4 linked regions of the Homo sapiens genome follow. The protein of the gene in region 1 interacts with the protein of each later gene in a pairwise test. Each region holds a gene or a part of one and is shown in the gene's direction. Other genes may lie near its edges.

Region 1 (7,033 bases):
AAGAACCTTTATAGTAACAATATTCTGATAGTCCCCGCTCTGGGAGCTCGGACTGGGATTTCCAGGCTTTTACCCTAGGGCCTGATTTATATTGAGCAATGAGGAAACCATACAGGACCCCAGCGCTGGGCAGAGAGTCTGGTATGTAGATGTTAAGGAGAGGAGTAGGGAGCCTGAATCTCCTTGGAAGGAGAATTGGGTTTGGAGTCGCCTCTGAGGCTGCATCTCTCCTGAGCTGTTTATCCTATACTCTATTTTCTTCAAGAGATGGTGTGAAAAGAGTGTTTCTTTTTCTGGCAAGAAAACCTTGCTTTCTTCTATTCTGGGAGTGATGCTGTCACAGTCAGGGAATCCCACTGCCACAGGATTATAGAATCTGCTCTCAGATTTATTTCCCAGCAACACACTACAACCCAGACCCCTGAATCCTGGGAACCATCAAAGGGGTCAAGGATAGTAAAGGCAAGAGAATCACAGAACTGAATGTGACCTCCTTAGCACTGGGCCAAGCACCAGAAATGGATTGGGCAGGATCTGCTCTCAGGGAGCTCACAGTCTGGTTAGGGAAGGAGGAGACAGAAGAACATTTCTAGTACAGGATGATAAGTGCTGGTAGAACCCAGGAAGGGCCTCCTGGAAGAGTCTTCACTGTAGAGTGATGTGGTTGGGTTTGTGCTCTAGAAAGTCGATTTCAAATTGGAAGGAGGCACAGGCTGTTTCCTCTGCTTGAAATGCTTCTCTCCACCTCTTTGTCTGGCTGAGTCCTTCTATTTTTTTTTTTTTGACACAGGGTTTCACTCCCATCACCCAGGCTGGAGTGCAATGGTACAATGTCGGTTCACTGCAACCTCTGCCTTCCAAGCTCAAGCGGTTCTCCTGCCTCAGCTTCCTGAGTAGCTGGGACTATGGGCATGTGCCACCACACCTAGCTAGCTTTTGTATTTTTAGTAGAGACGGGATTTTGCCATGTTGGCCAGGCTGGTTTCGAAGTCCTGACCTCAAGTGATCTTCTGCCTCAGCCTCCCAAAGTGCTGGGATTACAGGTGTGAGCCACTGCGCCCATCCTAGCTGAGTCCTTCTTAACCTTAAATTTTCAGCTCATGTCCCTTATCCTAGGAAGCATTTCCTGACCTGGTTAGGTTATGGCCCTCTAGGTATCTACAGTCCTCTGTATAGCAGTTGTTTCCACTAGCGTTTGCCACACTGAACTTTTCTTTCTTTCTTTCTTTCTTTTTTTTTTTTGAGATGGAGTCTCGCTCTGTCGCCCAGGCTGGAGTGCAGTGGTGCGATCTCGGCTCACTGCAAGCTCCGCCTCCTGGGTTCAGCCCATTCTCCTGCCTCAGCCTCCCGAGTAGCTGGGACTACAGGCACCTGCAAACACACCCAGCTAATTTTTTGTATTTTTAGTAGAGACGGGGTTTCACCATGTTAGCCAGGATGGTCTCGATCTCCTGACCTCGTGATCTGCCTGCCTCGGCCTCCCAAAGTGCTGGGATTACAGGCATGAGCCACTGCACCTGGCCTGAACTTTTCATTTTTAAATTATTTATTTATTATCATTATTTTTTTTGACACGGAGTTTCGTTCTTGGCGTCCAGGCTGGAGTGCAATGGCGTGATCTCGGCTCACTGCAACCTCTGCCTCCCGGGTTCAAGCGATTCTCCTGCCTCAGCTTCCTGAGTAGCTGGGATTACAGGCACCCGCCTAGTTAATTTTTGTATTTTTAGTAGAGATGGGGTTTCACCACGTTGGCCAGGCTGGTCTTGAACTCCTGGCCTCAAGTGATCTGCCTGCTTTGGCCTCCCAAAGTGCTGGGATTACAGGTGTGAGCCACCCCACCAGCCTTATTTATTTTTTTAATAGAGACAGGGTCTTGCTATGTTGCCCAGGCCAGTCTCAAACTCCTGGCCTCAAGCAGTCCGTTTGTGTCAGCCTCCCGAAGTTCTGGGATTGCAGGCTGAGCCACAATGCCAAGCCAACCACACTGAATTTTAAGTGCTTGCTTCATTGTCTTATCTTACCCACTAGATTATGAACCTTCTGAAGGTAAGAAATGATGCCTTTTCTTTCTTCATCGAACATAGTGCCACACCAATAAGAAACAATAAATATTGGTTCCATAACTGAATGGATTAATTCCATCTCGAGGAAGGGCAAGGAAGACTTCCTCGAGGAGGTGACATTTGAGCTGGGGCTTGAAGAATGAATAAAGTCAGTGGGAATTCCAGTTCAAGATACCAGATTGAGGGCCGGCACGGTGGCTCATGCCTGTAATCCCAGCATTTTGGGAGGCCGAGGCGGGCGGATCACCTGAGGTCAGGAGTTCGAGACCAGCCTGACCAACATGGTGAAACCCCATCTCTACTAAAAATACAAAAATTAGCTGGACGTGGTGGTGCACCTGTAATCCCAGCTACTAGGGAAGCTGAGGCAGGAAAATCGCTTGAACCCTGGAGGCGGAGGTTGCAATGAGCCAAGATCGTGCCACTGCACTCCAGCCTGGACGACTGTGCAAAACTCTGTCTCAAAAAGAGAAAAATAAATAAATAAAATAAATAAAAGGCATGAAGCCGTTATGACAATGAGAATAAGAGACAAGGTAATAGGAACAAAATTTTGGAAACTGAAATTCAGAAGGAAGAGTGGTAACTAACTCAGACCTAAAAAATGCTCAGTCCCGAGCCAGCAGTGGGGAAAGCTGAAAAGCAACACTTTTTTATTTTGTGGGGGATAGAGTTTTGCTCTTGTTGCCCAGGCTGGAGTGCAATGGCGCAATCTTGGCTCACCGCAACCTCCGCCTCCTGGATTCAAGCAATTCTCCTGCCTCAGCTTCCCAAGTAGCTGGGATTACAGGCATGTGACACCATGCCCAGCTAATTTTGTATTTTTCGTAGAGATGGGGTTGCTCCATGTTGGTCAGGCTGGTCTCGAACTCCCGAACTCAGGTGATCCATCCGCCTTGGCCTCCCAAAGTGCTGGGATTACAGAGCCACCGCCCCCTGCCAAAGCAACACATTTTATACTGCAAAAACCCTTAAAGGTCTTAGGGGTTGGAAGCACCAGGTATTTCTGGAACTGGGGGCACAAGTGGGGCTGAAAACAAAAGGGCTGGTTGAATGTTTAAAAGTCATATTCTAAGATCCCCTCCCTAACTGTGCAACCAGGTGCCACCTAATTCTTTATCTAGCAGAAGACTGGAGATGTAAGTTCTGTTGTTGTTTTCTTTTTTTTTTTCTTTTTTTTTTTTTGAGATGGAGTCTCGCTCTGTTGCCCAGGCTAGAGTGCAGTGGCCCAATCTCAGCTCACTGCAGCCTCAGCCTCCCGAGTAGCTGGGATTACATGCACCCGCCACCACACAGCTAATTTTTGTATTTTTAGTAGAGACGGGGTTTTGCCATGTTGGCCAGGCTGGTCTTGAACTCCTGACCTCGGGTAATCCACTTGCCTCAGCCTCCCAAAGTGCTGGGATTACAAGCATGAGCCACCATGCACGGCTGTAGATGTAAATTTTGGAAAGAGGAAGGAAGGGAGGGATGGAGGGAGGCAGAAAGGAAGGAAAGGAGGGAGGGGAAAACAGCAGGACAAGTGTTTTTAGTATGAGGAGCTTTGTTTAATGTATTTAGTTTGGTCATGGACTAGGACAGTTGTCTTCACTGTTCATATATTTGTCTCCAGGATGAAATAATTGAAGATAATCTCCTTTATCAAGTTAATAGTCTGTACAGTCTGATATTGCAGTTATTTATGTTCATCTCCCCTTATTGAGACTGCAAGCTTCTATTAAGCAGGAACAATTTCTCCATTATCTTTGTAATTATTAGCAAATCCATGTACCCAATAGTCATTTGTTCAATTGAATTAGAGTTGTGATATTCTTCCAAAAACACAAATAATTTCAGGTATAAAATTTTTTTCTATGCTTTTGCCATAGTGTTTAGAAAACCCTAAACTGTGTGTGTGTGTTTTTTTAATTTTTTCACTTAATGCAACACAACAATAATCATTAATACAGAAGACCCCAAAATATATGAGGATTTCTTCCCACCAGCAAGCAAGCAATCAGTTCTGCAGCAGATACCAGCTGGGTGTCTACTAATTTAATTTCAACTCTGTCTACCTGGAGACAGTGTCACATCCCACAGGTTGAGGGCTCAGTCCCCAAGACTGTCCCCCTCTTCAGACACTAGTCGTAAATCTGGGCCTCCTGACCTTCTGACCAACCAGCTTCAAATTGGGGTTCCTATGACCCCCTCCTTGGGTTTGATTGGTTTGCTGGTGTGGCTCACAGAACTCAGGGAAACACATTTACTGGTTTATTATAAGGATATTACAAAGGATATAGATGAAGAGATGCATGGGGCAAGGCATACGGGAAGGGGTGCGGAACTTCTGTGCTCTCCCTGGGTGCACCACCCTCCATCTGTTCAGCTACTTGGACGCTCTCTGAATCCTGTTGTGGGGACCTTTTTTTATTTTTTGAGACAAGGTCTGGTTCTGTTGCCCAGGTTGGAGTACAGTGGCTCAATCACAGCTCACTGCAGCCTGTACTTCTCTGGCTCAATCAATCCTCCCAGTTCAGCCTCCTAAGTAGCTGGCACTACAGGTGTGCAATACCACACTCACCTAATTTTTTTTTTTTTTTTTTGGTAGAGACAGGGTTTCCCTGTGTTGCCCAGGCTGGTCTTGAACTCCTGGGATCAAGCGATCCTCCCACCTCAGTCCCCTAGAGTGTTGGGATTACAGGCTTAAGCCACTGTGCCTGGTCCTTTGGGCCTTTTAAAGAGACTTTATTGGTTGTCCACGATTGAAACATGGACAACCATATCAAAATGTTATTGGACAAAAAGGGTCTGATCAAAACCCAGCAAAGCCTGTCTGTTTAGATTCTTATTGGCCTCTCTCTGCGGCATTCCTTCCTCCAGGGTATGAGTCAGGACCTTCTCTGGAATGAGGGTCTTATGACCCACAATCAGATTAGAGTTCTACTCTGGGAAGGTGAGAGGAGAGCAGGAGAAGGTCAGAAAGAGACTGTTTCCTGAAGCCTATTTCTGAGTGCCCCAGCATTATAACAAACACTGTAACAATGGCTATGGGGCTTATGAGCCAAAAACTGGATGAAAACCTGCACACACACACACACACACACACACACACACACACACACACAGTAATATCACAACTAGTAAATAAGTCGACCATAGTAATATGTAGAGCCAAATAGCCTACCATTTATTGATTTACAGTATTATACTTGTCAGATGGTATGCTATGCATGTTAATATGTTCCTTCGATGTCTCATGACAAACCTTTAGATAGTACCTCATATTATAATAAAGAAATGAAGGTTTAAAGAAATCAATTTTAATTTCATATGGCTCATTAATGGCAAAACTGGAACTCAAATCTAGGTCCATTTAATTCCAGTGTCTAATTTTCTCAATGTACAAATATATATATATATTTTTTTGAGACGGAGTCTTGCTCTGTTGCCCAAGCTGGAGTGCAGTGGTGTGATCTCGGCTCACTACAACCTCTGCCTCGGTTCAAGTGATTCTCCTGCCTCAGCCTCCTGAGTAGCTGGGCTTACAGGCGTGCGCCACAACGCCTGGCCAATTTTTGTATTTTTATTAGAGACGGGGTTTCACCATGTTGGCCAGGCTGGTCTCAAATTCCTGATCTCAGGTGATCTTCCCACCTCGACCTCCCAAAGTGCCGGGATTACAGGAGTGAGCTACCACACCTGGCCTCAATGTACAAATATTAATGCATGGTCTTACTCTGGTTTATCATAGATGTGAATAAAGCAGTTATTTCCTGAATAATTCAATAAACATTTTTCAAATACAAAAAACATTTACTGTGTTTGTGTGACCTGCGGGATCTGACCTGTATATGTAAATACACATACACACATAATGACGTTTTGGTCAATGTCAGACCATGTATAACATAAACAACCATGTAAATTTTTTTTTTTTTTTTTGAGACGGAGTCTTGCTATGTCATCCAGGCTGGAGTGCAGTGGCGCGATCTCAGCTCACTGCAAGCTCCGCCTCCCGGGTTCATGCCATTCTCCTGCCTCAGCCTCCCCAGCAGCTGGGACTACAGGCGTACACTGCCACGCCCAGCGAATTTTTTTGTATTTTTAACAGAGACGGGGTTTCACCGTGTTAGCCAGGATGGTCTTGATCTCCTGACCTCGTGATCCGCCCGCCTTGGCCTCCCAAAGTGCTGGGATTACAGGCGTGAGCCACTGCACCCGGCCAAATTTTTTTTTTTGAATCAGAGTCTCGCTCTGTCACCCAAGCTATAGTACAGTGGCACCATCTCAGCTCACTGTAACCTCTGCCTCCCGGGTTCAAGTGATTCTCCTGCCTGAGCCTCCCGAGTAGCTGGGATTACAGGCAAGAGCCACCATGCTTGGCTAATTTTTTATTTTATTTTATTTTATTTTATTTTTTTGAGACAGAGTCTCGCTCTGTCGCCCAGGCTGGAGTGCAGTGGCATGATCCCAGCTCACTGCAAGCTCCACCTCCCGAGTTCACACCATTCTCTTGCCTCAGCCTCCTGAGTAGCTGGGACTACAGGTGTCCACCACCACACCTGGCAAAAATTTTTTTTGTAATTTTTAGTAGAGACGGGGTTTCACCGTGTTAGCCAGGATGGTCTCGATCTCCTGACCTCTAGTGATCTGTCCTCCTCAGCTTCCCAAAGTGCTGGGATTACCATATAAACATTTTGATCAATGATAGACTACATATGTCAAATAAACATTTATCATGTGTGTATATATGCACATATATATAAACATTTATGTGTATATAAGTGTGTACACATACACAAATATTTATATGATGTTTCAGTCATCATACGACCAAAACATACGATGTTTCGATGAACAGCATATACCATAGTGATTTCATAAGATTATAACACAGCATATACACAAATATGATATATGGCACTTGATATTGGCATAGCAGATCAAGTAGGGATTGATATTCAGTAATTGTGCTGGGACATTTTGTTTTC
Region 2 (3,966 bases), on another chromosome or scaffold:
GAGGTTTCTGAGGCTTGCAGCTGCAGGTTTCTGGCTGGGTTGGGGGAATCTCCTCACTCCACTGCCACAGAGCTGCCAAGTTCAGGCCTTTGGAGCAATAAACAGAAGTCAGGTGCACCTTAGTCTGGAAGATCCCTAAAAGAGTTAGTTCATCAGTCTTTAGTTTTTTAGTAGGATTAAACTTAGACCATCCTAATGAGATACAAATTGCCCGTTCAAGTGGAGACTGGTCTTAGACAAGGACCATCACTGCACCAGTCCCCTCTGCTCTTTCTTGCTGCAGTTGTGGTTTGCTGTTTGTTCATTGGGAGAATAAGGCCTTTATCTTCCTCTTTTCTCAGGATGTGGACAGTGCCTATATGAACAAGGTGGAGCTTCAGGCCAAAGTGGATGCCTTGATAGATGAGATCGACTTCTTAAGGACCCTCTACGACGCTGTAAGGATGTTACCTACTAAGAAGGGACAGAGGGAGAGTGAGGTGTTTCCAGATTTGAGGCTGGTGCATTTTGGTATATAGGCCCCAGAAGACATCTGGAATGAGCCTGGAGATGAGGACCCTTGGAAGGGATTCCACAGGATAAGCTGCAGACATGGGGTTCTCTGAGTGGCTGCGGACAGGGTGTGGCTGATACACATGTGGAGCAAGGAATCAGTGAATGAGACTGTTGATCAAGAGTCTTTCAGGGCCCTGTGTGCTTGTTACAGGGACCCCAAAAGTGAACAAGCTCCCTCTGTGTTGACAGGAGCTATCTCAGATGCAGAGCCACATCAGTGACACATCTGTGGTGCTGTCCATGGACAATAATCGCTCCCTGGACCTGGACAGCATCATTGCTGAAGTTCGTGCACAGTATGAGGATATCGCTCAGAGAAGCAAGGCCGAAGCTGAGGCCCTGTACCAGACCAAGGTGGGTGCTAGTCACCTCTTACGGGATCCACTGGAGGTTTCAGAGAGGCCATGGCCTATTGGACAGCTGGGTAGTGAGTTCCCAGTGGTCACTGGGTGAATGCCTTTTGGTTTTACCCTCTGAAGTCATCCTTCTAATGGTGGTTCAGTTGCAGAAAGTCTTGCCCCTGGGGGAGATGGTTGCCTGCTATGTGGGACTGACTCCAACTTGCTCAGGAACTACAGGGTAGGAAAATCTTCTACCACAACAACCCAGATGTTCTCTTTCCTGCTGCCTTGGGGGTTTCCCTGCTGAAACACAATGCAGTATCATTTTAGCAAATGCCTTACTGAGCTTCTGAAGGTTTGGTGGGTGATGTTGGAGGTGTAGAAACAAGTCAAGCAAAGCTGCAGGAATACCCCATCTTCCCTTCTGTTCTGCAGTTGGGGGAGCTGCAGACCACGGCTGGCAGGCATGGGGATGACCTAAGAAATACCAAGAGCGAGATCATAGAGCTCAACAGAATGATCCAGAGGCTGCGGGCAGAGATCGAGGGTGTCAAGAAGCAGGTGGGATGGTCATGGATGCTGGCACCTGGGATGATTGCTGAGGGGCAGGGGCTAGGATCTCAGGACTCCTCCCCTGGAATAGACGTCTGGAGGTCATCTCAGGCTGGCTGACCCACAGGGCAGTATCTCCACAAATGGAGACAAGATGGAGGCACTAGGGGAGGAGGAATGTTCCCTGACTTTAAGATGGGATAATCCATTGCATGTCAGGAAGGGCCTGGGGCCCTCTTACTGAGCTCATTCCTCCTACCTCCCTTGCCCCAGAATGCCAACCTGCAGACGGCCATTGCCGAGGCCGAGCAGCATGGAGAGATGGCCCTCAAGGATGCCAATGCCAAGCTCCAAGAGCTGCAGGCTGCTCTACAGCAGGCGAAGGATGACCTGGCGCGGCTGCTACGTGACTACCAGGAGCTGATGAATGTCAAGCTGGCCCTGGACGTGGAGATCGCCACCTACCGCAAGCTGCTGGAGGGCGAGGAGTACAGGTGAGCCTCCAGTCCCGTCTTCCCACACCCCCTGGCTCAAGTCATAGGCCAAGGGCCAGATAAGTGACCAAGTAACTGGGGATGGAGCCCTGCTGTATAAAGAGAGGCCTTGTGGTGAAGCATTTGCCTCTACCAGCCCACTCCCTCCCAGGGCACGTATGCAACCAGTGCCCACAGGCTCTCCTTGCTACAGCCCAAAGAGGGGTGGAGAAAGCTTACCTGATTTGCCAGGCTTCTCTGTTCAGCTCTGGTTGCTATTCATGCCCTTGGTCCGTGGACTTGTTGGTGATGTGCTTTGTGACGGGGCCCACTTTCTCTTGCTTTCTCAAACAGGATGTCTGGAGAGTGTCCGAGTGCTGTCAGCATCTGTAAGTACCGAAAGTAGCTAAGAAAATGAGAGTTAATTCTGAAATATCTGCACTAATCCAGGGTAGTAGCAACTAATTTAAACATATTTTTACGGAAGTTGGAGGGGTTTTCTGGGAGAGGAGAGGGAAGTGATTGGCTTTTGTAATTGTTCTGGGTTCAGGGCACTTTTAATAGGCTTCGACGGCCAATGTGGAATATCCAACAGGGGGCCTCTTGATAGGAGGATAAATTCAGACGCTAGATCCCCTCCAAGGGGGTCATCAAGACTGTACTGTGGGAGGAACCACTGGCTAATTCATAATGGCTTAACGGCAGGGGAGTGAGTAGCTAGTGGCCTTGGAACGGCTCGTGGTGAACATCCTGTGCAAAGCTGCCTTGATCAGCTCTGGATAGTCGTGGGCCCGGTGGATCATTGACAATAACATAGCAGCTGGCCTGGGCGCCGTCGCTGATCGCTGTCCTGTCCTCTCCCCCACAGCCGTGGTCAGCAGCAGCACGACTTCCGCCTCCGCAGGTGGCTATGGAGGAGGTTACGGCGGAGGCATGGGCGGTGGTTTAGGAGGTGGCTTCAGTGCGGGCGGCGGCTCAGGCAGTGGCTTTGGCCGGGGAGGCGGCGGTGGAATCGGCGGTGGATTTGGCGGCGGCAGCAGCGGTTTCAGCGGTGGCAGCGGCTTTGGCTCCATCTCTGGCGCCCGCTATGGAGTCAGTGGCGGGGGCTTCAGCTCGGCCAGCAACCGGGGCGGCAGCATCAAGTTCTCCCAGTCCTCCCAGTCCTCCCAGCGCTACTCCAGATAAAGAGCACGCATCAGCATCGCAGCCACTCCAGCGCCTCCCCTCCGCTCCCCACGCCCCCATATTGGCAACACCCCCAGCGCCACCCCATGCTCCCCAAGAACGCGGCTCTGCGCTGGAAGGCTTGTGGCCTCTTGCTCCTCCTTCCAGATCCCCGGCCAAGCCCAGTCACGAGAATTTCAGGCTCTTCTCTCCGGCTCCAGCCTGTGCCTGTGATTGTCCAGGTGTGGCCTAGGCCGCCACCTTCTGCTGCCCCGGAGTCCCCTCCCTGGGTGGGATGCTCACTACAGCTCTGATGTATATAGCACACAGCCCCCTCCGCCCCTCCGGTCTGTCGCCAATAAAGTGCACTGTGTTTCACTCCGGGCCTCTGAGTATTCGCTCCATGTCCTTCTCCTTAGGGCACTGAGCTCCCTGGTCACCTCCCTGGCCTCCCTGCCTCTGCCTCTCCCATGTGGGCTCTGTGATCCACAGAGCAGCTGGAGAACTCTTCCTCTGAAACAAAGGCAGTTCGTCTTCTCAGTCCATGGTGCGGATCCGGTTGTTCATTATTCTGTGAGCACCGTGGGGAGGGAGAGGTCCTGCTCCCCGACGCTGTTGTACCCTGTGTACCCTTACCGTCCTTAGTGGTGAAGGCTGGCCCATGCAGACATCTGTCTCCTCCCTGTCTTCTCTCATGTGGGGGAACTAAGAGGGCCTTGGGGACAGAGGGTTTCTTCCCTTGGTGTTGATTCTCACTCCAGCTGACATCGTGAAAGCTTTTCCCCCATCAAGGTGCTCCGGGAAAGTGCGGGCTGCTGGAAGCCCAGGGATGGAAATAGGCCCCAGAGCAGCCTATGTCAAAGTCTGACCCAGGAACACCA
Region 3 (7,033 bases), on another chromosome or scaffold:
CATCTCCACCAGAGCAACAGAGTAGAATTCAGGGGGGCTCAGGCCTCACTCCCAGACCTCGGACCACATGCTGGCACCCCAAGGCTTTCTCACAACGCCAGAGGCAAGAATGCAGAGAATTCATCATGATAAATTGCACAAGTGTTGCAATTAAAAGTGGTTTTATATTCACAGAAAGAGCCAAAATACCAAATGATACAACTGTAGCCCCTGTATATTGTATACTGATACATCATTGTCTGTGCTGTCTAGCATAATAAATAGCATCATATCTAATAGTTACCAAACGTAGAAAAATATTGTATGGATCTTTTGGCATTGACACTGCTGAACTCTGGTGCCTCTACCTTTTATAGCTAGCTTTGTGTGTGTGGTGCAAAGTCAGGGGGAGGGGTTCACCAATTTACAGCTTTATTATAAAGCTGTAAGTGATGCCAATGCATTTATCCCTCTCTTCTTTTAAATCTTAAAACCTGGGGAATGTGTATTAATGTGAATTATTTTACTTTGCATTTTTAAGCACCAATAATAAACCAAGCTTTCTATGTACACTTTATTTTTCTTAGCATCTGGACAAAATATTTAAACACAGAGAACTGCAGCAGAAGCTGGTGGATGCAAAGCTTGAGCAGGCCCAAGAAATGATGAAGGAAGCGGAGGAGCGACACAAACGAGAAAAGGAATATGTATTTATCATTTTAGTCGTTGTGCATATCTGGTCTACCTCAGTGTCAGAGACACTCTGAGCAAGTTGTTTTGTATTTATTTATTTATTTATTTATTTGAGACAGAGTCTCGTTCTGTCATTCAGGCTGAAATGCAGTGGCGTGATCTCAGCTCACTGCAACCTCAGCCTCCAGGATTCCAGCGATTCTCCTGCCTCCCCAAGTAGCTGGGATTACAGGTGCCCACTACCACAACAGGCTACTTGTTTTGTATTTTTAGTAGAGACAGGGTTTCACCATGTTGGCCAGGCTGGTCTTGAACTCCTGACCTCAGGTGATCCGCCTTCCTCGGCCTCCCAAAGTGCTGGGATTACAGGTGTGAACCATCGCGCCTGGACGCAAGTTGTTTTTATAATGGTCAAAGAGCACTAGACTGATGGAGAAAGAGCCCCAGCTTCTATGGAGAACTAAATTAGCCAGCCCAGTCTGAGGCACTATGTCTACACTACTTTCTACATAAAATAGTCATTCATCTATTCCACACATATTTTTCAAGTGCCTGTTATCTACTAAGCACCGTGTTAGGTGCGGGGACATAGCCGTGAACAAGACAGAGAAGGGGCATCTCCCACTATGGAGATTAGAGTCTAACTGGAAAGAGACAAGCAATAGACAAGCAAACAGGGAAGGGTCATTTCAGACAATAATCACCACTACTAAGGAAGTAAGGAGAAACTGAGAAGGGGCCAAAGAAGGGGACGTACTTTAGATTGAGTGACCAGGAAGGCCTCCTGGAGGGGCGAATGCTTGAGCTAAGCCCTGCCAGATGAGGAGCTGCTACTTGGAGCATCGTCTCCAGCATCTGCAGCAGCAACAAACGCCCTAATGCTGGAACCAATTTGGTGTGCTCCAGAAACAGGAAAAGGTCAGGGAAGCAAGAGCATGGGGGAGAGGTTCAAAATGAAGTTGGAGAGGTAAGCAGGTGCCAAACTGTGTAGCTTTGTAGGGCTTAAAAAGTTATTTGGATTTCATTCTAAATACAATGGGAAAGTACTGGGTGCTTCTGCAAAGGAAGTGATGGCATGATCTGCTCTGCATTTTCTAAGATTAATTTGGCTCCTGGATGGAAAATAGACTGCAGAGGGACAAGAGAGCAAGAAGACAGGAGGCTACTATAGCAATCAGATGAAATATGATGATGACTTGGTTTAGGGATATGGCAGCAGAGAAGAGGGGTGGAGATGGATGAAAGTTGTTTTCAATGTGAAATCAACAGACAGTGCTACAGACCTGAAGCTGGTGACAAAGAGAAAAGGAGAAAGTCAAGGATGACTCCTAAGTTTTGGGCTGAGGAAACTGAGTGGTGGTGTTTATTGATATCTCATTAACCCCAAGCACTCCCCAAAAAGCTGTAGGGTCATTCTACAGATGAGAGAATTGAGGCTCCAAGAAGATACGCAACTTGTTAAGGTTGCACACTGCTGACTGAGCAAGATGTGTTTTGATCTTATGTGCGTCTGTTCCCAAAGCCCACACTCTCTGTGACGGTGCATCACACTCAGACGTGTGTTTCAGAGGTATGAGTTGACGCATGTATCTGTTGCTGGGGTGAGAGAGAGGTAAAACATGGTCCATGGACCACTTATTCAAATTTGGCCATGTCACATTTTGATCTTGAGATTTTCATTTACCTAAAATCAGACCAGAATCAATTCAGTTGATTAGAATAGTAATTTTAAAATAAATTTTCAAACATGGCAACAAAAAGACAAATTTTGAGCAACATAATCTGGTGGACATTGGATAATTTCAAATCAGAAGTCCATGTTCTCTTAAGAAAAAGATTAATTTATGAAATCCATCTACAACCTAGCTCTGAAAGCAAGAAATAAAACATTCAATTATTATTCACAATCCAAGAGAATAGAAATTCCACCATTGGTGTAATTACCTTCTTGGGTAAAATATGCTTCCCATAGTATATTGGTACTTTGCTGTATAACACGAGACATGAAAGAGAAAGAACAAGACAAAGATGCACATGAGAGACATTGGAGAGCAGATTTGAGACGACCCAGCCTTAGCAAGAAACTAGCACCTGTTTTGGTTCAGCAAAACAGATTTGAGTCAAAGAGAGGGAGCTCATCTCACTTCTTCGAAGCTAGCCACCTACCTGGCTTGCAGCTGGGGCACCTCCTTTTGGAAGCGATGAGATATCAAGTCACCCAGGCAGAATAGGCAGCCACCAGCCTCCCTCGAGGTTGGGGGTCACCAATCACAACAAAGCTGCATAGCCAGCTCACAAGAAGCAGGCACAGTGCCACCACTCCCCTCAGATGGCCAGAGGGGACACTGTAGGGCTTCTACTCCACAGCTGCCCCAGTCCTCTCATAGGACCATTTGGTTGCACTTCTATGAGAATCAATCTTCATTGCACCCTGGGAGGCATAGAGGAACAAATGCAACCCATTTTACAAATGGAGAGGCTGGGTCATGGGAAAAAGACAAACTTAGATGAGGAAAAAGAAGCTTTCCAGTTTTTAAAAGTAATGATTTTATTGTTAGTTTTTTTGGTTCTGATTATATAATACATAGACCTCGTGGACTTTTTTTTACAATAGGGATAAACTAAAAGTGGGAAATTTTAATCAGCTTATCTTCAAATACAAGAGAAACTTCTTAATTGATAGCCTCCAGACTGACTAGCCAGATTGATCTCTGCGTTCACTGTTTTCTCTGTAAAACGCACTGACCGATGCCCACAGCATGCTGACTTGCAGGTCTACCCAGCCACTCTCTGGAAGGGCTACAAAATTTGCCCCAGTTTAGTAAGGTGGAGCTTACCAAGAATCAGCTCTTTGCACAAACCTTTTCTTTCCAATTGCACTTGCTTTTGTGTAAATCAACAGGATGTTACATAAACTGATGAAATATAAGTATGAAAACAAAAAACTGTTTGTGCAAATTATGCTTAGTGCTTTGAAAGACCAAATGCAAGCAAATGGCAAAAAACAACTGTCAAACTAGATATGAGTAGCTATAAAAGACTGGGGGGAAGTGGAAAACTCTAGAGAATTATCCAGACAAGCTGCTTCATAAGTATTTTTAGGTTCTAGCACTATCGCTAAACACACACACACACAAGCCTAACAACCTAGAAATCTTACATGGCACACTGTGGATGTGATTTTTAAAAATAATAATAAAAACCAAACAAAAAACCCTCTGAACTCTAATCAGAAGATCCATACCCAAAACAAAGACCACAGCCCTACCTCAAAATTGATAAATAGGCATTCATCTTAAGTTAAAATTACAAGCTTATATATGAATGTGTCATTGTATGCCCAAATCCCCTTTCCAATTTAACCCATCAGCTCTCAGGGGCCAGGATTTAGACCAATAGGTCAAACTTCTAACCCATACTTCTCAAAATGTAATCCACAGGCCACCGATATCCAGACCATTTTGGGTATTTTCTTGAAGCATAGAATTCAGTCACACTCTGTACTTCCTAAATCATATTATCTGAGAGGCATCTGCATTTTTAATATGTTCCGTAGGAGATTCTGATGCATGTTAGAAGCTCTGTGTCAGGAATCAGGGACAAAGACCAAGGACATACATAGTTCTTATTGTATCAAGTGTGCTATGGTGGAGAACAGTGGTCTAGGAGAATGATTCTGGATGTACTCTAAAGAAACAGTTGTTGGCCGGGCACGGCGGCTCACGCCTATGATCCCAGCACTTTGGGAGGCCGAGGCGGGCAGATCACGAGGTCAGGAGTTGGAGGCCAGCCTGGCCAACATGGCAAAACCCCGTCTCTAGTAAAAATACAAAAATTAGCTGGGCATGGTGGCAGGTGTCTGTAATTCCAGTTACTGAGAAGGCTGAGGCAGGAAAATTGCTTGAACCCAGGAGGCGGAGGTTGCAGGGAGCTGAGGTCACACCACTGCATTCCAGCCTGGGCGACAAAAGAGAAACTCCGTCTCAAAGAAAAAAAAGAAAAAAGAAAAGAAACAGTTGCTAACAAAAGTGCACCAAGTGGGGATGTTCTGGAGAGGTTCCAGCAGAGGCTGAATGATTGTTGGCCAAGATTACTAGAGAAGGTTCCAGAATGTGGTGGGAAGTTGAATTTTTTGTGATTCATACTTGAGCTAGAGACTATTTTTTTTATTAAAACCACTAGTTTATAGTTGAGAATCCAACTTTTTTAGACCAATTATTTTCTTAGCTTTCTTTTTCTTTATTTTTTTAGAAATGGAGTCTCACTCTATTGCCCAGGCTAGAGTGCAGCAGTGCCATCATAGCTCATTGCAACCTGGGATTCCTGGGCTCAAGTGATCCTCCTGCCTCAGCCTCTCGAGTTGCTGGGACTGCGGGCATGCACCACCACCCCTGACTAATTTTGGTTTTTTTTTTTTTTCAGTGACAAGGTCTCCCTATATAGCCCAGGCTGTTCTCAAACTCCTGGCTTCCAGCAATCCTCCCAGCTCAGCCACCCAAAGTGCTGGGATTATAGGCATGAGCCACCATGCTGGGCCTGGTTTTTTAAGCTTTCTTAGATTCTTTTCAAAGTTCCAAAAAATTACTTAAGGAGGTTAATGAGCAGGTTGCTAAGTTTTGTAGACAAATTACAGCCAAATAGTAATCTAAAAGGCAAATCTGACCATCTTTCCACACACTCTCTCTTCTCATAGTTGCTGAACCAGGCAGCAGAGTGGAAACTTCAGGCGAAAGTGCTGAAGGAGCAAGAGACAGTCCTGCAGGCTCAGGTGAGGCCAGGTGGACGAGGCATGGGGGTGCTGTCCTCACTGTCCCCAGATAAAAAGGCTGGGGCCAAAGGTGGGCAGCAGAAGTCCTCCTATGTGGCAGGGGATGGGGGGATGGGAATTGGAAATGAAGAACAACTTCACATTTATTCATATTTTCAAGTAAAAATAAAAGCACAATATTATATCTATGAAAAAGAAATGTTCTGCGCCGGCAACATCCAGTCAAAGGTTTGTTGACAGACAATGGATGACAGTACAGTGGTCAAGAGAGTCAGCCAGTGTCCAGGTTCCCATCTAGCACTTCTTATTTCCACCGTACTTCCCCTCTCATTGCCCTGTTAAGGTAAGAAGAAAACGTAAACTGCTCAGATGCACCATCTATGACTGGCGATTCTTAAGATGTCCTCATGTCTTGATATTATTTATCATAAAAAGAAAATGAGGCCGGGCGCAGTGGCTCACACCTGTAACGTCAGCACTTTGGGAGGCCCAGGCGGGCGGATCGCCTGAGGTCAGGAGTTCGAGACCAGCCTGACCAACATGGTGAAACCCCGTCTCTATTAAAAAATATATAAACATTAGCCAGGCGTGGTAGCATGTGCCTGTAATCCCAGCTACCCAGGAGGCTGAGGCAGGAGAGTCACTGGAACTCAGGAGGCGGAGGCTGCAGTGAGCCGAGATCACATCACTGCACTCCAGCCTGGGCGACAGAGTGAGACTCCATCTGTTTAGAAAGAAAAGAAAAGAAAATGAGAAAAATAGTCACCACTCAAGTTTCTATGCCATCAGAGGTTGGCCTTGTCAGTGGTGAATGGATACAAGTGTCAGGCAAGTCAGGAACCATTTTGGTTTGGCTGCGTGACAACTTTTATGTGCTTCTGTTAGACTCTGGGGGTTCCTATTTCAGACTCAAAAAAAGGGGGGACCATTCTGGACATTTATGCCACAGCTGACTCTGGAAGAAAGCCAGACCTACCCATCTTACCCCTACCTGGGGCTCTGCCTGTCCTAAATAATGGTCCCTGTGGGTTCCAGGAGTACCATCCTGCCACAGGCCACAGACTTCCACTGCCCTGGGAAACACCCAAGTGCTAAAGGGACTGTGAGGTCACAGGGAGAAATTCACCGAAGGCAAGGAAATCAGAAACCTTCCAAGCTGGGCAGCATTAATTTAAGATTTGTAAATGTTTATATGCTGACAGCTGAGTACTTGTTCACTGTAAACACACACACACACACACACACACAAATCGTGTTCATTGTAAAAGAAAAAAGCAAATAAGAAATTTAAAATCACAGATTATACTACTGCACAGACAAAAATACAGGGAACATTTTCATATCTAGCCTTCTTAAAGTATATTTCTGCAATGCATATATAGCAAAGCAATAATAAATTATTTTCTCCAGTATGAACTACTCTCTGATAATAAAGAAGAATTGTCTTAATACACTAGATACATAGAAGTTAGAACCATAATGTGTCTGAAGCAAAGGGCCCAGAGTTACAAACTCAAGATCATCCTTTAGGCAGTCACGGAACTCATCACATCATGGTGTAGGGTGGGTGGCTGACTGCTGGCTGTCTAGCAG
Region 4 (7,833 bases), about 110 Mb from region 1:
AGTGCAGTGGTGCAATCTCGGCTCACTGCAACCTCCCCCTCCCGGGTTCAAGCGATTCTCCTGTCTCAGCCTCCTGGGTAGCTAGGACTATAGGTGCCCACCACCACGCTCGGCTAATTTTTGTATTTTTAGTAGAGATGGGGTTTCAGCATATTGGCCTGGCTGGTCTTGAATTTCTGACATTGTGATCCGCTCACCTCAGTCTCCCAGAGTGTTGGGACTACAGGGATGAGCCACCGCACCCAGCCTTTTTTTTTTTTTTTTTGAGACAGTCTCGCTCCATTGCCCAGGCTGGAGTGCACTGGTACAATCATGGCTCACTGCAGCTTCGACCTCCTGGGCTCAAGCAATACCCCCTCCTCAGCCTCCTGAGTAGCTGGGACCACAGGCACATGCCACCATATCTGGCTTTTTTTTTTTTTTTTTTTTTTTTTTTTGTAGAGATGGGGGTCTCACTGTGTTGCTCAGGCTGGTCTCGAACCCTTGGGCTTAAGCAGTCTCTGCCTTGGCCTCCCAAAGTGCTAGGATTATAGGCATGAGCCAAATAGCCAGCTGCTCCTTCACTTTTTTTTTTTTTTTTTTTAGACGGAATCTCTCTTGTCACTCAGGCTGGAGTGCAGTGGCGCGATCTTGACTCACTGCGACCTCTGCCTCCCGGGTTCAAGTGATTCTTCTGCCTCAGCCTCCCAAGTAGCTGGAACTACAGGCACCTGCCACCACACCTGGCTAATTTTTTTGTATTTTTAGTAGAGACAGGGTTTCACTATGTTGGCCAGGCTGGTCTCAAACTCCTGACCACATGATCTGCCTGCCTCGGCCTCCCAAAGTGCTGGGATTACAGGCGTGAGCCACCACACCCGGACTGCACCTTCACTTTTTAAATCTTCCCCCATATTTGTCTCCCAGGCCGCTTATTGCTTCTTTTACACAGGCAGTATATTTTGGCGTTAGGAGAACAGGCTTTAACACTGGACAGATCTGGGTTTCAGTGCTGGCTCTGTCACTGACTGTGTGGCCTTGTGCAAATTATTTTAATTTTCTGGGTTACAGTTCTTTATGCTGTATGTAAAAAGGGAGATAATGCCTAATTCATTGGGTTGCTGTGGGGATTAAATAAAGCACTTAGCAGCAAGTAGCACAAAATGTCCAATAAATGGTAACCCATAATGATGTTTTCTTGCTCCTATGATAGTTTTTTTCCTTCATTCCTTTCCATTACATGGGCTCCCCTTACCTCCAACCAGACTCCCTCACCAACTCCTTCTATTTTGCTATTCTTCTTTCCTCTGTTCATCTGAACCCACAGAATGCCCCATCCCCTCTGCCTTGATCCCTGACCTTGGCCTCTTCCCCCAGGGCTTGTCAGTGCCAGGCTGGCTCCAGTATTGGCAGGTTGGCCCCCTACAGAGCCCATCTCTTCTGATCCTCTCTATCTATTCTGTCTGCTCTCATAACATCACCCCATCATACCCATTCAGCCCCTCTTCCCTCTGTGGCGAATGCTATAACCAGCTCCTCTGGCTCAGAGGGGCTCAGTCCTGTTTGAAATGGCTACATAGTAGATATTTCCAGGAGAGCTAAACGGCTTGTATCAAAGGCCATCTGATGTTTCTGCCTAGGTATGCCATACAAACTCTCCTTCCAAGACAGCTGCTTCTCCCCTGCATCCATATTCCCAGTCTGCCTCTCTGTTCCTCTAGTGCCCCAAACATTAAAGTCCTTTCATTCCTGCTAGTCTCTTTCCCAGCCTCTCTTCCTCCAGCTTCTGATTCTTGAATGTGGGTAAGCTTCTCAGAGAAGGGAACTAGAACTTGAGGGGTTAAGGGTAAGAAGGGAGAGCAAGAAAGTACAAATTACATACACATCCCCTTTAGGAGCCAAAAAGGAACAAAGACATAAGACAACATCACAGATGCCTACCTTGGGGCCTGTATATGCCGATTTGTTAGTCTTCCCCTGAAAGGCAAGAGCCACACAACAGGAATTGACTGGGGCTTGGGACAAGCTATTGATCTAGATCAAGGACACTGTGGAGTTGGTATATGCTGGGGTTTGGGGTGGGTGTCTGGAATGGGAACAAGGACACATGGAACAGGCCTAGGGGCTGAAGCAGAGTGTCCTCCTCCCACCCCCACACTTCCACTCAAGCCCCCCAGCCCCCAATGCAGCTATAACTTGGGCTCTTTTCTGCCACAGTGGAGAGAAGCATCTGCCTGCCACATGACATTCAACAGACCTGATTCTCTCCAAAAGAGAAATTTCCCATGTGGGAATCCGGCTGGATCCCTGTGAGGGAAGACCCTTGGAGAACGCAGCCTGGAGTTCTGGTAAAAAGCCCTAGAAGAGGAGAGGACTCCTGTGGACTGCAGGCTGCTTCCTGGCAGAAGTTTCCTCTCTTACCCTCAGTCTAAAGCCTTAGTTTCAATTCTGCCAGGCAAGGTGGGGAACTATAAGTCTTCTCTTCTGGAGCCCACGATGGAGCCTGCCAGGGAGACAAGTTATTCTTCTGTTCTGGACATCCAAGGGTGACTTTAAGGAGGATGCCTGGAGGACATGGGGAGAAGGTGAGAAGGGTTAAGCTGGCAGAAAGGGGAAGCCAAGCATCTGCAGCACTTAAGAGCAGGACGGTGCCAGGATGGTGCCTCCTGAACGGACCTCAGTAGTCTTGTGGGGGTGATCTGGGAAGGTTAGGAGTTCTGTTGGAAAGGTAAAGCAGGGTGTACAAGTCCTCTGCCCCCACCCCGGAAAGCCTCAGGGCAGCTGGAATGGCATTGAAGAGAGCAGGTGGCAATTTTGATGAGGAGCTGCTGACACGGCTGATCCTCTGGGCGCTGGGGCCGTGACATCAGGGTGAGAAGCTCTGTGTGGGAGCTCTAGGGAACGATAGTTGCCCGGATGTGGAGCCCTGCCAGGTATTCTTCCTGGTTTAGGCCAACGTGATCCAGCAAAGGCCAGGAGCTTGTAGAGGAGGAGCTGAGGCAGGGATGACACGTAGGACAATAAGCAAGAGCTGGCTGTCTTGGGAGGTGAAGAGCAGGAGCCAGTACCCTTCCTCAAGGAGATGGCTCTCCACCTAGACATGATTGGTGCCTGGTGTCTGCTCTATTCTTTCTTTGCAACTGGAAGGAAGGCAGATGACCCCCAAAGCTCTCCTGCCTGCTTCTGTGTGATATGTTTGATATTGGGTTGTTTAATTAGGAACCAACTAAATGTCAAACATATTCTTACAGCAGCAGGTGATTCAGCACCACCCTCTTTCATACTTCAATCTCTGGGGCTCCTGTCTCTTTTACTGAACCTCTTCTCTCCAGGACCCCCCCAAAAGTCCAGTAGCTGCAACCTATGTGCATTTCAATCTTAACCTAAGAGGGCTGGTGTGGGAATGGGAGAGAGTTGGAATTTGAGGATAGAATCTTTCTATTTCTTGTCCCCTTATACTAGAAGGGACATTTCTTTGCCTTTTCTTGTCCTCGTATTTTTCTCCCCCTTATTCACTTGCCCACCCCCCCCCCATTTTCCACTCCTTCCTCTCCCTGTTCCCTAACCCCTTTCCCTGGCTAATCTCCAGAGAAAGGAGACTTGGTTTCTCCTCTCTCTGTCGAGAGTCAGCTGATGGTCTATCTGCCTATCTACCTCTAGTGACTGGAAGCTCTCAATAGTGGACTCCAGCTCTGCTCTACCCACTGGCCTGGTGGGTGTCTCCGTTCCCCCATTGCTGGGGCTTAGCATTAACTCTCAGTATCCTGACATAAATGACTAACTAGAGCCATTTATATTTGTCCAATATATCTGGTCACCTTGAACAGTGCCCACCTCTCCCTTGGCATATTTTCAGGTGTATGGTGCCAGTGGACTGGTATCCTTGCCACCTGTTAGTAACAAGGCTCCCAATGGAAGAATAAACATGGTCTGGAACTAAACTGGAAAGAATAGAGCTGATAATGATGATTACGATGATGTGGTGAGTGGCAGCGTTGGGGAGAATTAAGAAGGGAGAAGATAAAGGGAAGAAGAGGAGAGAGCCACACAGACCAAAGTCTGTGTGGGTACAACAGTTCTATTTTAAGATTACTGTGGGAAAACAAAGGGTATGATCCTGTCTGGATTGTTCTGACCCTCCCCTGTTTCTCTCCCCACCCCACTTGAAGCTCTGGGATAGCCTTCAAGGATAGGGTTGGAGATTCCAACCCTACCTCTTACTCTACTCTTGTGGCTCTTGGTGGGGAGGAAAAACGTCTCCCTGCCAATCGGAGACTCCCAGAATAGCACAGCAATTTGATCTGGGGATCTGGGAGAATTGTTAAGGATCATGAGTGACCTCCCCTCTTCCCTGTGCCCAAGCTCCTTGAATACCAGGAATCAAAAGCTAAAACTCAACTAACGGAGTTTGACCAGCATTCAACACAGTCTGGGGGAGAGTGAAACGGGAAGCTGAAAGGCAACCAGGACCCCCTGGATGCAAACTGCCAACCTAGAATTGCCAAAGTACACTTCTCTATTTCAATGTTCTTCCCTCCCCTCTTCCTCTTCTTTTAAAACATCCATAGAGCTGCCCAGAATGAGTGGAAAGTTTCAGGGTCAGGGAGAACCTCTTCCCTCCCCCACTTTCCATTGTCTAAAATCAGCCTCAGCTGTTGCTAGATATTTTTTTTGCTGGTGATGTCAGTTCATCAAAGCGTCTCACCCTGTGTTCCCCCAGGAGAACAATGATGGGGTGGAGGGAGCTGGAAAGACCATATTAGGAACAAAAGGTGGAGCTATGAGCACAGATAAAGACTCAAGTCTGGGGACCTCCTGGTCACTCAGGCAGCAGCCCCTTCTTTCTTGCCCCAGTCTCCAGTTCTCCAGTGTTCACAGGTGAGCCTACCAACAGCCACTGCTCATGATGGAGGCCATCAAGAAAAAGATGCAGATGCTGAAGTTAGACAAGGAGAATGCTCTGGATCGGGCAGAGCAAGCTGAAGCTGAGCAGAAGCAGGCAGAAGAAAGAAGTAAACAGGTAGGCACTGGCATTGATCTCTCTCATCTGCTAGTGAACAAGACTGTGAAATGGAAGGGAGTTTTCATGGGAAAGACAGTGACTACTGGTGTCACCTCCTTTTTGGGGGTGGGATGGACTCCCCAGCCTCACTGGAGGAGCAGAGGATATCTAACATATCTGTCTCAGACTGCCTTTGTGACCTTGGGAAAGTCAGTGAGCCACAGTATGTCTGCTGAATTTAAGTAGAAATGGACCATGTTTTGGAAGAACCCTTGACTTCTAGAGGAAAAGGTAAGAGTTCTAGAGGGAAAGAGCATCTCTTTTCACTCAAATAGCATCACGGGCATCTACACTTTAGATATTTATCATCCAGGGGTCTTGGATGAAAACCCAGGATGGCTTGGTCATCTTAGGATCAGAGATTACAGGGTCACAGGCCAAGCTACGGCATAACTCCTGAGGCAGTGGGCTGGAAGTGGCTGGGGAGAAAGTGTGTCTCACTAGGGATGGTAACATGGAGGTTACACTCAGGGCTCCAAGAGCCCAGGGTCCAACCCTGCATTGTTGTGTTTGTGTGTTTTTGTGTGTGACTCTCTGGGCTCCTATAGCTGGAGGATGAGCTGGCAGCCATGCAGAAGAAGCTGAAAGGGACAGAGGATGAGCTGGACAAGTATTCTGAAGCTTTGAAGGATGCCCAGGAGAAGCTGGAACTGGCAGAGAAGAAGGCTGCTGATGTGAGTATTAGAGAGATGGAGGATGGGTTTAATCTACACATATAGATCTTTATGTTAATGTATGACGAAATTCCAAACACACTTGTGGGTTCATGGAACACAGACATATATACTCACATACATTTTTGCATATAACCACATGCTGGTATATTCTCATAATGGCATGTATTTTCTTTCTTAAAGACATCTCCAACATGTTAAAAGTTTTTTTTTAATACATGTAAAGGTCTCATTTATCTCCTATCACCAACCCAGGAATTTAATTATCTTTCCCAGGACCTGGACAAAGAGAGGGGACTCTAAGTTCAGAATGCTGTCACTTATCCTACCTCCTCCCCCATGCCACATTCTTAGCTTTTATGTCCAAGTCTTGGCATGTGGATATGTGTATTAATAGGGAACCTCTCATCTCTCAACTGTCCAACAAAACCAGCTCGGATTTCACAATGGGAAATGGAGGTCACACTGACCCTGGCCATATATGGGTTTATTTATCTTGGCCAATGCAGGCATTTGCCTTTATGCCATGGAGATGCCATATGAAGCATTGCTCCTAGGGCAGCAGAGAGATCCCTACAGTGACAGAGTATAATAGAAACTAAGAAAGAATCTTAGGGGGTAAAGGTATCACCACCAGACTTCACTCTATGACCGTGAGTAATTACTCAGCTTGTCTAGGGCTGAATTTTCCCATTCTCAAATAAAATAAATTCTCTTTTCCATCTCATATTATCCCATCATCATCACCTACTTTCCTTCATCTTTAACCTTGAAGTTTGCTGCAAAGATAAATGAGAGAGTAGATTGAAAAGTTTTTTAGAAGAAAAGTACCATAGGAATCTTACCAACAACAACAGAAATGTCCCAGTATTGGTGGAAACAAGTTTCTCAGTGAACTGAGTTAATAGGAAAAAAGGAGCATGTAATATTTAAAATCATATTTGGGCTGGGTGCGGTGGCTCACGCCTGTAATCCCAGCACTTTGGAAGGCCGAGGCGGGTGGATCACCTGAGGTCAAGAGTTTGAGACCAGCCTGGCCAACATGGTGAAACCCTGTCTCTAGTAAAAATACAAAAATTAGCCAGGTGTGGTGGCGGGTGCCTGTAATCCCAGCTACTCAGGAGGCTGAGGCAGGAGAATCGCTTGAACCCAGGAGGCGGAGGCTGCATGGAGCCGAGATCGTACCACTGCACTCTAGCCTGGGCAACAGAGAGAGACTCTGTCTCAAAAAATAAGTCAATAAAATAAAATCACATTTGGTTTTGGAAAATAGCTAGAAGGACAGACAGAGTGAACCATTCATAAATGCTTTCGGATCCTCATATTTGGTCTCTCTGCCATCCGGTTTCTTTCCTTTTCTTTTCCTTTTTTTTTTTTTTTTTTTTTTGAGACAGGGTTTCACTCTTGTTGCCCAGGCTGTAATAAAATGGTACTATCTCGGCTCACTGCCATCTCCACCTCCCAGGTTGAAGCGATTCTCCTATCTCAGCCTCCTGAGTAACTGGGATTACAGGCACGTGCCACCATGCCTGGCTGGCTAATTTTCATATTTTTACTAGAGACGGGGTTTCATCATATTGGTCAGGCTTGTCTTGAACTCCTGACCTCAGGTGATCCGCCTGCCTCGGCCTCCCAAAGTGCTGGGATTACAGGCGTGAGCCACCCCGCCCAGCCAGGTTTCTTTTTATTGTTGTTGTTGAGATGGAGTCTCGCTCTGTTGCCCAGGCTGGAGTGCAGTGGCACAATCTAGGCTCACTGCAAGCTGTGCCTCCTGGATTCAAGCCATTCTCCTGCCTCAGCCTTCCGAGTAGCTGGGATTGCAGGTGTGTGCCACCATACCCAACTAATTTTTGTATTTTTTTTTTAGTAAAGATGGGGTTTCGCCATGTTGGCCATGCTGGTCTCGAACTCCTAACCTCAAGTGATCCGCCTGCCTCAGTGTCCCAAAGTACTGGGATTACAGGCGTGAGCCACTGCGCCCAGCCTAAGCCACTGCGCCTGGGCTTTTTTTTTTTTTTTTTTTTTTTTTTTTTTTTTTTTTTTTTTTTTTTTTTGAGACAGAGTCTTGTTCTATCACCAAGGCTGGAATGCAGTGGCAAGATCTCGACTCACTGCAAC

Evidence for each region.
Region 2: the proteins of LURAP1 (region 1) and KRT3 interact in binary tests that used the Homo sapiens proteins (3 or more experiments, as listed by UniProt).
Region 3: the proteins of LURAP1 (region 1) and TXLNB interact in binary tests that used the Homo sapiens proteins (3 or more experiments, as listed by UniProt).
Region 4: the proteins of LURAP1 (region 1) and TPM3 interact in binary tests that used the Homo sapiens proteins (3 or more experiments, as listed by UniProt).

The regions. Positions count from the first base shown.
Region 1 is NC_000001.11:46,206,315-46,213,347, forward strand, and holds part of LURAP1 (leucine rich adaptor protein 1), read left to right. Parts: intron 1-7,033. UniProt on the Homo sapiens protein: Acts as an activator of the canonical NF-kappa-B pathway and drive the production of pro-inflammatory cytokines. Promotes the antigen (Ag)-presenting and priming function of dendritic cells via the canonical NF-kappa-B pathway.
Region 2 is NC_000012.12:52,789,182-52,793,147, reverse strand, and holds the end of KRT3 (keratin, type II cytoskeletal 3), read left to right. Parts: intron 1-341; coding exon 342-437; intron 438-744; coding exon 745-909; intron 910-1,331; coding exon 1,332-1,457; intron 1,458-1,721; coding exon 1,722-1,942; intron 1,943-2,275; coding exon 2,276-2,310; intron 2,311-2,789; coding exon 2,790-3,106; 3' UTR 3,107-3,463; downstream 3,464-3,966.
Region 3 is NC_000006.12:139,253,971-139,261,003, reverse strand, and holds part of TXLNB (beta-taxilin), read left to right. Parts: intron 1-566; coding exon 567-686; intron 687-5,365; coding exon 5,366-5,440; intron 5,441-7,033. UniProt on the Homo sapiens protein: Promotes motor nerve regeneration. May be involved in intracellular vesicle traffic.
Region 4 is NC_000001.11:154,189,068-154,196,900, reverse strand, and holds the start of TPM3 (tropomyosin alpha-3 chain), read left to right. Parts: upstream 1-4,800; 5' UTR 4,801-4,882; coding exon 4,883-4,999; intron 5,000-5,167; exon of another isoform or gene 5,168-5,272; intron 5,273-5,589; coding exon 5,590-5,715; intron 5,716-7,833. UniProt on the Homo sapiens protein: Binds to actin filaments in muscle and non-muscle cells. Plays a central role, in association with the troponin complex, in the calcium dependent regulation of vertebrate striated muscle contraction.